Linked DNA regions of Homo sapiens: region 2 is linked to region 1. A link means that fine-mapping ties the variant in region 1 to the expression of a gene that starts in the linked region. Tissue or cell type: skeletal muscle. Region 1 holds a variant in brackets; the other region holds the start of a gene. All regions are shown on one strand. Distances are from middle to middle.

Region 1 (5,753 bases):
TCACAGTGTTAGCCAGGATGGTCTCGATCTTCTGACCTTGTGATCCGCCCGCCTCAGCCTCCCAAAGTGCTGGGATTACAGGCGTGAGCCACTGCGCCCGGCCAATTTCATAGCTTTTATGGGGATTAAATGATACATAGTTCTTAGCATATGCATACTAAATGCACAATAAATGGTAGTAATTAAATTCATAGGAAAAATACTAGCAGGATCCGCTCTAAAGGTAAGCAGGTATTAGCTCTGCAGAGTGGAATTTTAGGTAGATAATTTTTAATTCTCTTTGTACATTTTTGTATTTTCTAAAATTTCCATAATAAACTTTCACTAATTTTGCAATTTAAAAAATAATTTTAAATTTTTTAAAATAGGTGGGGTACGGTGGCTCATGCCTGTTATCCCAGCACTTTGGGCTGTAATCCCAGCCTGGCCGACATGGTGAAACCCTGTCTCTACTAAAAATACAAAAAATTAGCCAGGCGTGGTGGTGCATGCCTGTAGTCCCAGCTATTCGGGAGGCTGAAGCAGGAAAATGGCTTGAACCTGGGAGGAGGAGGTTGCAGTGAGCCGAGACCGTGCCACTGCACTCCAGCCTGGGCAATAGAGCCAGACGCTGTCTCAAAAAAAAAAAAAAAAAAAAAAAGTTAAATAATGGCCAAATGCTTTAGGCCCAGGAAATGTAACTTAAGGAAACTCACCCAAAAAAGGAATAAACAAAGAAATGAAACAAAAAGCAAAAGAGAGGACGTTTTAATGAAACTCCAGTGGCTGGCCGAGCATGGTGGCTCATGCCTGTAATCCCAGCACTTTGTGAGGCCAGGTAGAAGAACTGCTTGAGCCCAAGAGTTCAATACCAGCCTGGGCAACATAGTGAGGCCCCATCTCTACAAATAATAAAAAGATTAGCCGGGTGTGGTGGCACATGCCTGTAGTCCTAGCTACTCGGGAGGCTGAGACAAGAGAATCACCTGAGCCCAGGAGTTTGAGGCTGCAGTGGGCCATGATCACACCACTGCACTCCAGCCTGGGCAATGGAACAGGAACCCGTCTCTATTTTAAAAAGAGAAACTCCAATGGCCATGGCCTGTTTTCTTTCTTCTGTGCTGTGGGTGCCTAACCAAGCAGTGGCAGGCTGTGTGACCAGGGACCTACATAACACCAAGTCCAGTGGGACTTTAGCTCTGGGCACAAATGTTGCAGAACTGTAAGAACTGCAGGCAGCTGGGGCCCACAAAACATGGACAGATGATGGTGTCCTGACCCTAGGAGGTATGAATTCAGGTAAGCACTTTATAGTGGACATGAGTTAACAAGGAATCAGCAATTAGTGATCCTTTCCCAATAAGTTATAGAATTTTGTAGAACACTTACCTTTTCTTCTGGACATGGAGTTATCCATGATTTGCATTTGCCAGTCATGTCACCAAGGGTGGTCTCTTTGCCATTATATACATATACTCGGCCGTCTTCTCCCCCAATCAGTCCAGAGGTTACATCTGCTATCCTCAGGGGGGCTGCCATGATGATTTCATCTGAAAACAATAAAAACCGACAGAAGGAAGTATTTGACTCCTCACTGTCATCTTTTCCTTGTTCCGCTACTGGATCCTAACCCAACCTCTTACAAATAATATTAGTATCTCCTTTAGTCGGCTGTGATTTCATCCTGGCAAAGGCTTTTGTTTCCTACTTCATTCATCAATAGCAATTACTACAGGTGATTCTCATATTACCAGCTTCAAGAAGTGCAACTCCCTCTCTGGTCTTGCCTCATTCAAGATCTGTCTAAAGGTCCTTGGGCCACTGGGCTGTCAATTATAAGGGCAGAGCCCAGATGACCCAATTAGGGGACCCACCCCCTGGGCAAAGGGACTCAATTCTTGTCAAAGGGTCCTGTTCCTTTCTTACCTAAGCCATCATCATCCAGGTCACTCAAGTGCAGAACGCCACCAAATCGGGAGAAGCGGCGGTCTCCGCTGAAGGTGCTGAGCAGCAGAGGCTGCGCGTCAGATGTGAGTGCGTACATGCGAGTGGCTCCGCCTTGGTGTAGGGTCACGGTCAGGAATGCCACCTTAGACACGTCATCTGAAACGAACCACAGTTCCTGCTGGCCTCACAGAAAGGAAGGCATTACAGAACACGGAATAGCACCCCATCCTCAAGTGACACTGATCACTCGGGATCCTACAGGACAGTCGGTTTCGGAGCTGGTCATCTCCGGCAGTCAGGGAGGTACAACCAGCTTGGGCACCAAGGCACAAACACCAGAGAGCTTCAGTGATTTCCCTCCAGGCAGGTATTCTTTTTTCCAGTCTTATCCCCATAATACAGTCTCCACACAGCCACCTTTTTATTTTCTCGTATCACAAACTAGGTCACCCCCATGACTGACACATCCAAACGCAAGTGGACTCTGGATGGAGTCCAAACTCTTCACAAGGCCTTACAGAATCTGACTCCCACTTGGGGATCTAGCGCCATTAACCTTTTCACCCACACTTCACCAAAATGAACTTAAACCACAGCCCAATCTATGTCTTAAATTTGGGCCTTTGGACATGATGTGCTCTCTGCCTGGAATAGAGGCATATGCTCCGCGTGCTCCCCTGTCCACATCCCTCTGCTGGCTACTCCTGTCACCCTGCAGAATTTGGCTCAGGTGTCCCCTCCTCTGGGAAGCCTTTCCTAATCTCGCTGGTCTAGAGAAGAGGCCGCTTCC[C/A]TGTGCTCCCATACATAATAACACCGAGTCCAGTGGGACTTTAGCTCTGGGCACAAACGCTACAGAACTGCAAGAACTGCAGACAGCTGGGGCCCACAAAACATGGGCAAGTGATTGTGTCCTGACCCCAGGACCTCTGAGTTCAGGTAAGCATTTTACAGGGGACATGAGCTGTGCCCAGTGCCTTCTGAATACCCACGGCAGGGCAGCATCGCTCTGCATTCACTTCTGTGTCTCCTGCATCAGGCGCCCATTCCACAAGAAATGCGGTCACGTCTCTGTCTCTCTATCCACTGTACCTAGCATGGTGCTTGGTTCTGTACAAGTATTCAATAAAGTGTTTTTTGAATTAATGAATTTTGAACAAACTCAAAGCTAGTTGTTGGAATTTCGCTGTAAACTTTATTATTTGGAACACAGCTTTGATTTCAGAAATATAAATGGCACCTGTGGGTTGATGGGGCTAGTGGCCCTCTGAGAAGTTTGCCGTATGCTGGCAAAGTGTCAGTGCGTGGATACAATCTCACGTCAGCGTCCACTGAGTTTTGTGTGTAAAACTGAGCTAATCTGACCTGTTTTTTCGGACAAACTTGTGCCTTGTTTATGGGAAACTGTCCACTAGAAGCCACTGAGGGCTCAAAGCAGAGTCGGCAACAACAGTCAGATATAACAGCTAGAAAACAGTAGGAAATAAGAAAGAGTATTTTAAAAGCTCAGCAATCTGGAGCTTTCTGATACAGGGCAAACAACATGACCTAACACAATGTCTCCTAAGAGAACAATGTGCCAGCACAACAGTTAATATTCAGAGTGAAAGCCCAAAATATCAAGAAAAGTTGAAATAAGAGAAAATCTTCATTCCTTTTTCTTTTTTTATTATTGAGATGGAGTCTCACTCTGTCACCCAGGCTGGAGTACAGCGGCGTGATCTCGGCTCACTGCAACCTCCGCTTCCTGGGTTCAAGCGATTCTCCTGCCTCAGCCTCCCGAGTAGCTGGGACTACAGGCACGCGCCACCACGCCTAATTTTTTGTATTTTTAGTAGAGACAGGGTTTCACCGTGTTAGCCAGGATGGTCTTGATCTCCTGACCTCGTGATCTGCCTGCCTCAGTCTCCCAAAAGTGCTGGGATTACAGGTGCAAGCCACCAAGCCCAGCCACATTCCCTTTCTTTTCGTGCCTCCTAAAGGAACCATGAGCTCCCTGGAGCGCCCAGGAATCCAGTAACACTTCCAGCTCTCTGTCTACTCCCTGCTTCAGTCCTTCCATGGCAAGAGGATACCTGAGGCTTCTCCCTCTGGCTCTGCCGCCCACAGGATGAACACTGGCCCCAGTGCATGTGGGAGAATCTCAGAGAAGTCACCCCAAGGTCTAGCTTTCGGAGCAAGAATTAGAAAGCCTGAATAGGGCTGCCCATTGAGACTGTGTTCTCTAATCCAACTATGTCAGCTCTTCAAAAGTACATATTTTGATATCCCTCTGAATGATTCATGAATCTATTTCAGAAATGATTTGAAATGCACAAGGATGAGGAAGAATTGTAATTAATCAATACTCCCAAATCTCTAACACGCATCACAGTCTGTTAAAGAAGAGAAGCATATAATTTAAAATAATTTCATCAAAGTGTTTTTTTAATTCTTCAGAATTAAAACAGAAGAATCTAGACACTTGGAAATTTCAGCCATTCAAAACACCTCACCTTCTCAATCATGCAAATTAAACAATGGATTATCATACACATTTAGACAAGGAGAAAAAACTCAAGGTAATGTTGTAGGCATTTCTATATTATTTCAGTACTGAAAATAATTCTGAAGAACTTTGGCTTTTAAAAGGGCTACATGCAGAGGCCTTTATGAATTCCCAAATTCTAGAATGCTACTATAACACAGAATTCCTTCTGTAATGCTTATACCTTCTAGTTAACATAGAATTCCTTCTGTAATGCTTAAACCCTCTGATTAAGGACCATTATCTTTTAGACCTCCATATTGCCTTAATTTCTGCCACGAGCACTAGTCCCTAGGGTTGTGTTTGGGATGCAGGGGTGGTGGGTATTTTTTAAATACACACACAAGTGTTTTACTTCTCATGTGGAACTTTTCTTCCAGTGGAGGGAGCAGAAAACAAAAGAGCTATTGTGAAACACAGGTGCATCTCACCAACTCTACTCTCTTGAAAACCACAGGAAAGAGGATATCATCTTGTAATGTGGTTCATATTTGTGTCTCAGAAAAACTATAAACTTGCCAGGCATGATGGCTCATGCCTATAATCCCAGCATTTGGGAGGCTGAGGCAGGAGGATCACTTCAGCTCATGAGTTCAAGACCAGCCTGGGAAATGCAGTGAGACCCCATCACTACAAAAAGTAGGGTGTGGTGGCATGTGCCTGTAGTCTGACCTACTCAAGAGGCTTGAGGCGGCAGGATCGCTTGACCTCAGGTGTTCAAGGTAACAGTGAGCTGTGATCACACCATTGAACTCCAGCCTGGGCAACAGAGCAAGACCCTATGGCTTAAAAAGAAAAAGAAAAATTATCAACTGTAAGTTACTTAATGTCACCAGCTTTCAGGATTACTGCAAAAGTCAAAACTATGAAGATGTCAAGAAGATCTTTTATATTTGATCATTATCAAAAGTGTAAAAAATACTCAAAAAAAAAAAAAAAAGAAGCATAATCCAGGTGTTGTGGCACATGCCTGTGGTCCCGGCTACTTGTGAACCTGAGATGGGAGGATCACTTGAGCCCAGAAGTTCATGGCCAGCCTCGGCAACATAGCAAGACTCCAACTATTAAAAAAAAAAAAAAAAGCATAAAGAAGAAAATGTATATACTATATATATTTCTTTCTGGAAAGTGAGATAGGTAGGTAGGTAGGCAGATATCTATAAACACACATTTTAAACAAAATGGAGATTTTGTGGATTATAAAATTTTAAATCTGATTCTTTTCACATTTAGGCTATTTCTAGCTTTTTACTACTATAAACAATACAGCCATCCCTCAGTATCCACGAAGGATTGGTTCCAG
Region 2 (5,753 bases), 51 kb after region 1:
ATTTTCATTAGGTATAGGCTTGTGCAGTATTTCTATTGTTATAGTACAAAGCAAGTTTAGATGGTGATTTAAAGTTTCTGCTTAACTATTAAATAACTCTATGAGCTTTAGTGCTATTCAACCTCTCTAGACCTCAGTTCCCTCCTATGGAAAAGAGTTTAAAAAATACCCACCGTATAGGTTGGTTGAAATAATAAATGCTAAGTGACAAGCACAGTGGCTGACACTTGGTAGGAGCTCAAGAAAAAGAAACTGCCAGACCACACATGGTGGCTCACACCTGTAATCCAAGAACTTTGGGAGGCCGAGGAGGGCGGATCACCTGAGGTCAGGAATTCAAGACCAGCCTGATCAACATGGAGAAACCCCGTCTCTACTAAAAATACAAAAAATTAGCCAGGCATGGTGGCGCATGCCTGTAATCCCAGCTACTTGGGAGGCTGAGGCAGGGGAATCACTTGAACCCAGGAGGCAGAGGTTGTAGTGAGCCGAGACCACGCCACTGCACTCCAGCCTGGGCAACAGAGCGAGGCTCTGTCTCAAAAAAAAAAAGAAACTGTCATCATATTTTGCTTCAGTACTGAGGCAGACAAACCTAAGTACAAAATACAATATAACACCTAACCTATGGACTGAACCAATGATCCTCAAAAGTTTTTCATCATTGGACCAGAAGGACAAAATCATCTCAGAAAGCTACCAACTACACCCCACACCCACCCACAGCCTGAATCTCCCAAGAATCAATAAGAGGACTAACATTCCCTGGGAAGTGACATTCAAAGGTGATACCTTATTTCTGTTGTGAATCACCTCCAATTTTTAAAATTCATATAACAAAAAACTATTGCCACTACTATAAGCATTAATATCATAAAAGTCACAACCCACAAATACAAATAACCTGTGTACAGGATTCCAGTGATTTACGCTGAATGAAGCCATTTCTAATTAACTCACTCAGATAATGCTGACCTTCCACTCAGGCCCCTTTATAAGAAATGAAAAAGTGAACCAAAATATTTATAAAATCATCTAATTTATTAGTAAATAAATGATGGAGTTTTGGTCTTCTTCTATGTAAAAAAATTCTCAGAATCCGTGCAGATTCTATTTCAGGAGATGCCTTCAATTATGTTCACATAAATATTATTCTTTAAATGTCCATTAGGACCTTTGTTTGGTACTTAATGAAGAAGGGCAAGCAATTATCTGGTTTTATTAAAATTTCAGATGCAATCTGTCTTGTAAATTTTTAAACACTAAGGATTAAAAATGGAGTATTTCCATTTATATTTGTTCCTCATCAGCTTACTCTGTAGTTTTGGCAATTTCAACTTCACAGAACATAGAACTGCAAGACACTTTAGAATTCTTTAAGAAGTTCAACCCCCTCATTTTATAGAATTGAGAGGTAGGTAAAAAGTGAATTGCTCAGAATCACACATCTACTTTACTGGATGGCTGGAACTAGAACCTAAGTCTGATCCTCTTTTCCATTGTTTCCTGACTCCCTTCTAGCAGTACATTTTTAATGGAAAGAACGCCGGACCAGCTGTCAGGACATGTAATTCTAGGCCAGGCCACTGAAAACTTAGCTGTAAAACTGTCTAGTATCAGTTTCTTCATCTGTAAAAGAAGAGAACTGGACTCGGTGACTTCTAGTGTCCTTTCAGATAGTCAAATTCTGTGATAACAGGTTCTTGCCCATCGTAGCTCAGTATATATGTCTATTTTGCACTGATAAATTTTCATTTTTTGCCTATAATCTTATTATTCTTTGAAACTTCTGGAGGTGGTACAACTATAAAATTCTGTTATAATTTTTATCTAAATTAAAGAAAACTCAGGCCAGGCGCGATGGCTCACGCCTGTAATCCCAGCACTTTGGGAGGCCGAGGCAGGCGGATCGCAAGGTCAGGAGATCGAGATCATCCTGGCTAACATGGTGAAACCCCATCTCTACTAAAAAAAAATACAAAAAAATTAGCCAGGCGTGGTGGCGGGCACCTGTAGTCCCAGCTACTCGGGAGGTTGAGGCAGGAGAATGGTGTGAACCCAGGAGGCGGAGCTTGCAGTGAGCCGAGATTGCGCCACTGCACTCCAGCATGGCGGACAGAGCGAGACTCCGTCTCAAAAAAAAAAAAAAGAAAACTCAGAACATCAGGTATATCTGAAATTAATCTGAAAATTGCTGTAGAATGTTATCACAGCTAATTCTATTACAAATTGACTCACGTTTTCCATGCGTTAAAACATGTTACAAATACACTTCATACAAGAACCAAATCCTTTTGCTAAGAAAGATCTTAAGTGTTCTCAGCCCATATGCAAAAAACATGGTAGCTATGTGGGGGGGGCGGATGTGTTAATTAGCTTGATTGTGCTAATCATTTCACAAGGCATACATATATCAACACATCATGTTGTATATCTTAAATTTATACAATTTTTGTCAATTATACATCAATAAAGCTAGAAAAATAAAAATTTTAAATAACTCTTTGTGGTGCCATCTCCCTATATCCAGGATGACTCTGCCCTTGCCCCTAAGGTCGGTGGCACTGGCTTGCTGTACCCTTCTGCTCTCCAACTCCTGCCATCTTCCTGGCACCGTGCATGTGGATAACTAAACTCCCTTACTTTCTTGACCTTCCTGAAGCCAAGCACTTTTACAGCAATTTGACTCAGGGACCCACTCCCATGGCCACATATGGCTCTTTACATATACTTGGAAATGCCTGTCCTTGGACATGTAAAAACAACAAAAGTACATTTCTCACTCCTGCCATATTCCACCCATCTTGTTCCTCTCCCATTCTGTCAGTTCTGCTGCCACGTTGCAACCTCTCGTTCACTGAGCCTCTCACTATTTCCCCACCCAGAGAAACACACAGGGGTCCCATGACCAATGGGGCATCAGCTCTCTTTCTTATTTGCCCCTTAACTGAAGTCATGCTGCCAATCCCTATCCCTGGATGACTGCAATCACCGGCTTCTCCTCCCTGCTGTCAGGCCACTCAGCTCAGTGCCCAGGGGAAACTGTATCAATCCACGAGCGGGATTTTCAGTCTCTTCCTTAATGTCTTTGACAGATGTATTGTCCTCTCAACAACATAACAAGACACCAGTACTTACCTATTTCTACGTGTGTTGAAAGGCCACACGGTGAACCTCTATGGCAGAGAGAACCCAACATGATCAGCAGGCCAGGCCACAACCTGAAAGCAGACATGATCTCATTGCCCACCGGCTTCTCTGGTGACGTGGGAATGCTCAGAGCTGCAGCAGCACTGGGACTCCAAAATCCAGGTGCAGACCCACCGCTTCTCTCTAAGCAGGTCACTGACCGAGGAAACCAAGCCTCATTTCAAAATAATATCGTTTTCCAATGAAGTCAACTGTCCAACTACTGTTTAGCTTCACCAGAACAGCAAACAAACTCTGTGCTCCTGGGGGGTGGGGTTGGGAGGATAAACTGAAATCTGAAAAGCCTTAGGCCAGAAGCACTGCATCTTCTGACCGAGGTTTTTTCTGGATTTCATTTTAACATGAAATTTGTGTAGAGATGCAAGCAAAGTTGTCTCCAGATATTTTTTGCTTTCTATAAAAAGGCTCACCTGTGCAGATAGTCAACATATTAGACCACCTCACCTTACAAGGGTGGATCTCTCATGCATCCTTTCTACACATTTATCAGGCTGTCCTGCTTCCTCCGCCTCCCAAGCCACAAGTGCTGGGAAAGTTTTATGGTAATCAGCTGGAACTGGCTTCCTTTTCAGTATTTGGCAACAGATACTGACACTTGTATGGGATTACACAAGAGCAGCCACTCCTGGTCTCTCTACCTCTGGCTGTTCTAATAGGGCTTATCCAGAGCCTGTTGCAAGGTCAGATTCCTGCAGCTGAAGCAAAGATGTCAATTCCACTTGGGAGGTGGAAGGAAGGGGGCAGATTTAGGGCCAAGAAACAGGGTTTGGAAAATGTTAAGCTCACGATATATTATCAGGTACCCACTTACACTTCATCCATGGGAAAAATTAAGCTCTTCATGAAACTGATGGTAATCTTAAAACACAAATTATGCATATTTTACATTAAAAGCAAGAGATGGGCTCCTAAAAGAGTGGGAGGAAATAGTATTCACTTCAGGTTTGCCAAATGAAAGGATGAATAGAAAGTGGGATGATTTGGCTGGGCGTGGCGGCCCACACCTGTAATCCCAGCACTCTGGGAGGCTGAGGCTGGTGGATCACCTGAGGTCAGGAGTTTGAGACCAGCGTGATCAACATAGTGAAGACCCCGTCTCTACTAAAAATACAAAAATTAGCCAGGTGTGGTGGCACGTGACTGTAGTCCCAGCTACTGGGGAGGCTGAGGTGGGAGGATCTCTTGAACCCAGGAGGTGGAGATTGCGGTGAGCCGAGATTGCACCACTGCACTCTAGCCTGGGTGACAGAGCAAGACCCTGTCTCAAAAAAAAAAAAAGAAAAGAAAAAAAGAAAGTGGAATGATTTGACAACAGTTGTCGCCCCAACAGTTTCCCCTGTAAGCTTAACACAGCCATGTGCACAGCCCCAAGGAAAGAAATCCCGCAGCTACCCCCAGACCTGAGGGGCAGTAGGCCCAGCTACTCCTGATTAGTCCAGAGGCCATATGCCTACGTGTTTTGTTTGGCTAACAGGATGTTTTATAAACTTAAATCAAGTTTATGAACTTTTTCTAAATGAGAAAATTCACGTAGAAATCTAGATTTCTGGCTCTCTTAAAAACAAAAGAACTGGCATCATGAACTGACGCTCCCATGTGACACGACAACCAGCTGCAGCCAAAGAGCCAGCTGCCCCCTGATAGAGCATGTCCTGCTCCTCCAGTCCCCACCATCCATGCAATGTGTGCAGGTTTCCACACCCCTTCTGGCCACCAGAGGCCTTTGAGTTTGCCTCCCTGTCACTCTGGGCCTTCTACAGACTGTGCGTGAGGGAGTCACAATTATTAATTGGGACTTTGGATATTGTCTCTCAGAACATCCAAGAGCAGTCAATCAATGGTTACAGGGGAAAAAAATACTGCTAGAAAAGATATCTAACCATATATAATACAACAAACCCATCCAAAAAGCACCAAAGAAATGGGTTCAGAACAGGTGTGGTGGCTCACGCCTATAATCCCAGCACTTTAGGAGGCCAAGGCGGGCAGATGGCTTGAGGCCAGGAGTTCAAAACCAGCCTGTGCAACATGGCAAAATCCCGTCTCTACCAAGAAAAAAACAAAAACAAAAATTAGCCGGGCATGGTGGCATGCACTTATGGTCCAAGCTACTCAGGAGGCTGAGGCGGGAACATCGCCTGTACCTGGGAAGTGAAGGTTGCAGTGAGCTGAGATCACACCACTGCACTCCAGCCTGGGCAAGACCCCACCTCAAAAAAAAAAAAGGAATGGGTTCAGTTACCAAACAATACTAATCCCAAATGTCTCAATTTCTCATTATGCATTTTTTTGTATTTGAGATTCAGAATGACATAAACGTATAAATGTAATAAAATAAGAGGAAATTATTTGCTTAGTGTGATAGTTATGAATATGGTCTTTATATGACAATATTGCTTGCAGTTTTATGAAGTTTGTATTACTTTGGTAACAATAAAAACATCAAAGATATGACTTTAAAGAAAGTTAAAACGTAGCTCACAATATTACTATCTGACAAATAATAAGCATATGGAAATATTTTTCTTTCTGCCCCACACCCC

Evidence for each region. PIP is the estimated chance that this variant, and not a neighbour inherited with it, causes the effect.
Region 2: GPLD1 starts here. The variant in region 1 is fine-mapped to the expression of GPLD1 in skeletal muscle (GTEx, PIP 0.97).

Annotation. Positions count from the first base shown.
Region 1 is chr6:24,435,208-24,440,960 of GRCh38, forward strand. GPLD1 (glycosylphosphatidylinositol specific phospholipase D1) reads right to left here. Exons shown (of 25, transcript NM_001503.4): 21 at 1,906-2,082; 22 at 1,369-1,529. Among named protein-coding and RNA genes, the nearest start is that of MRS2, 35 kb to the left of the region's middle. The variant C/A (reference allele first, on the strand shown) is at 2,717.
Region 2 is chr6:24,486,277-24,492,029 of GRCh38, forward strand. GPLD1 (glycosylphosphatidylinositol specific phospholipase D1) reads right to left here and starts at 3,302. Exons shown (of 25, transcript NM_001503.4): 1 at 3,139-3,302. The coding sequence starts at 3,235.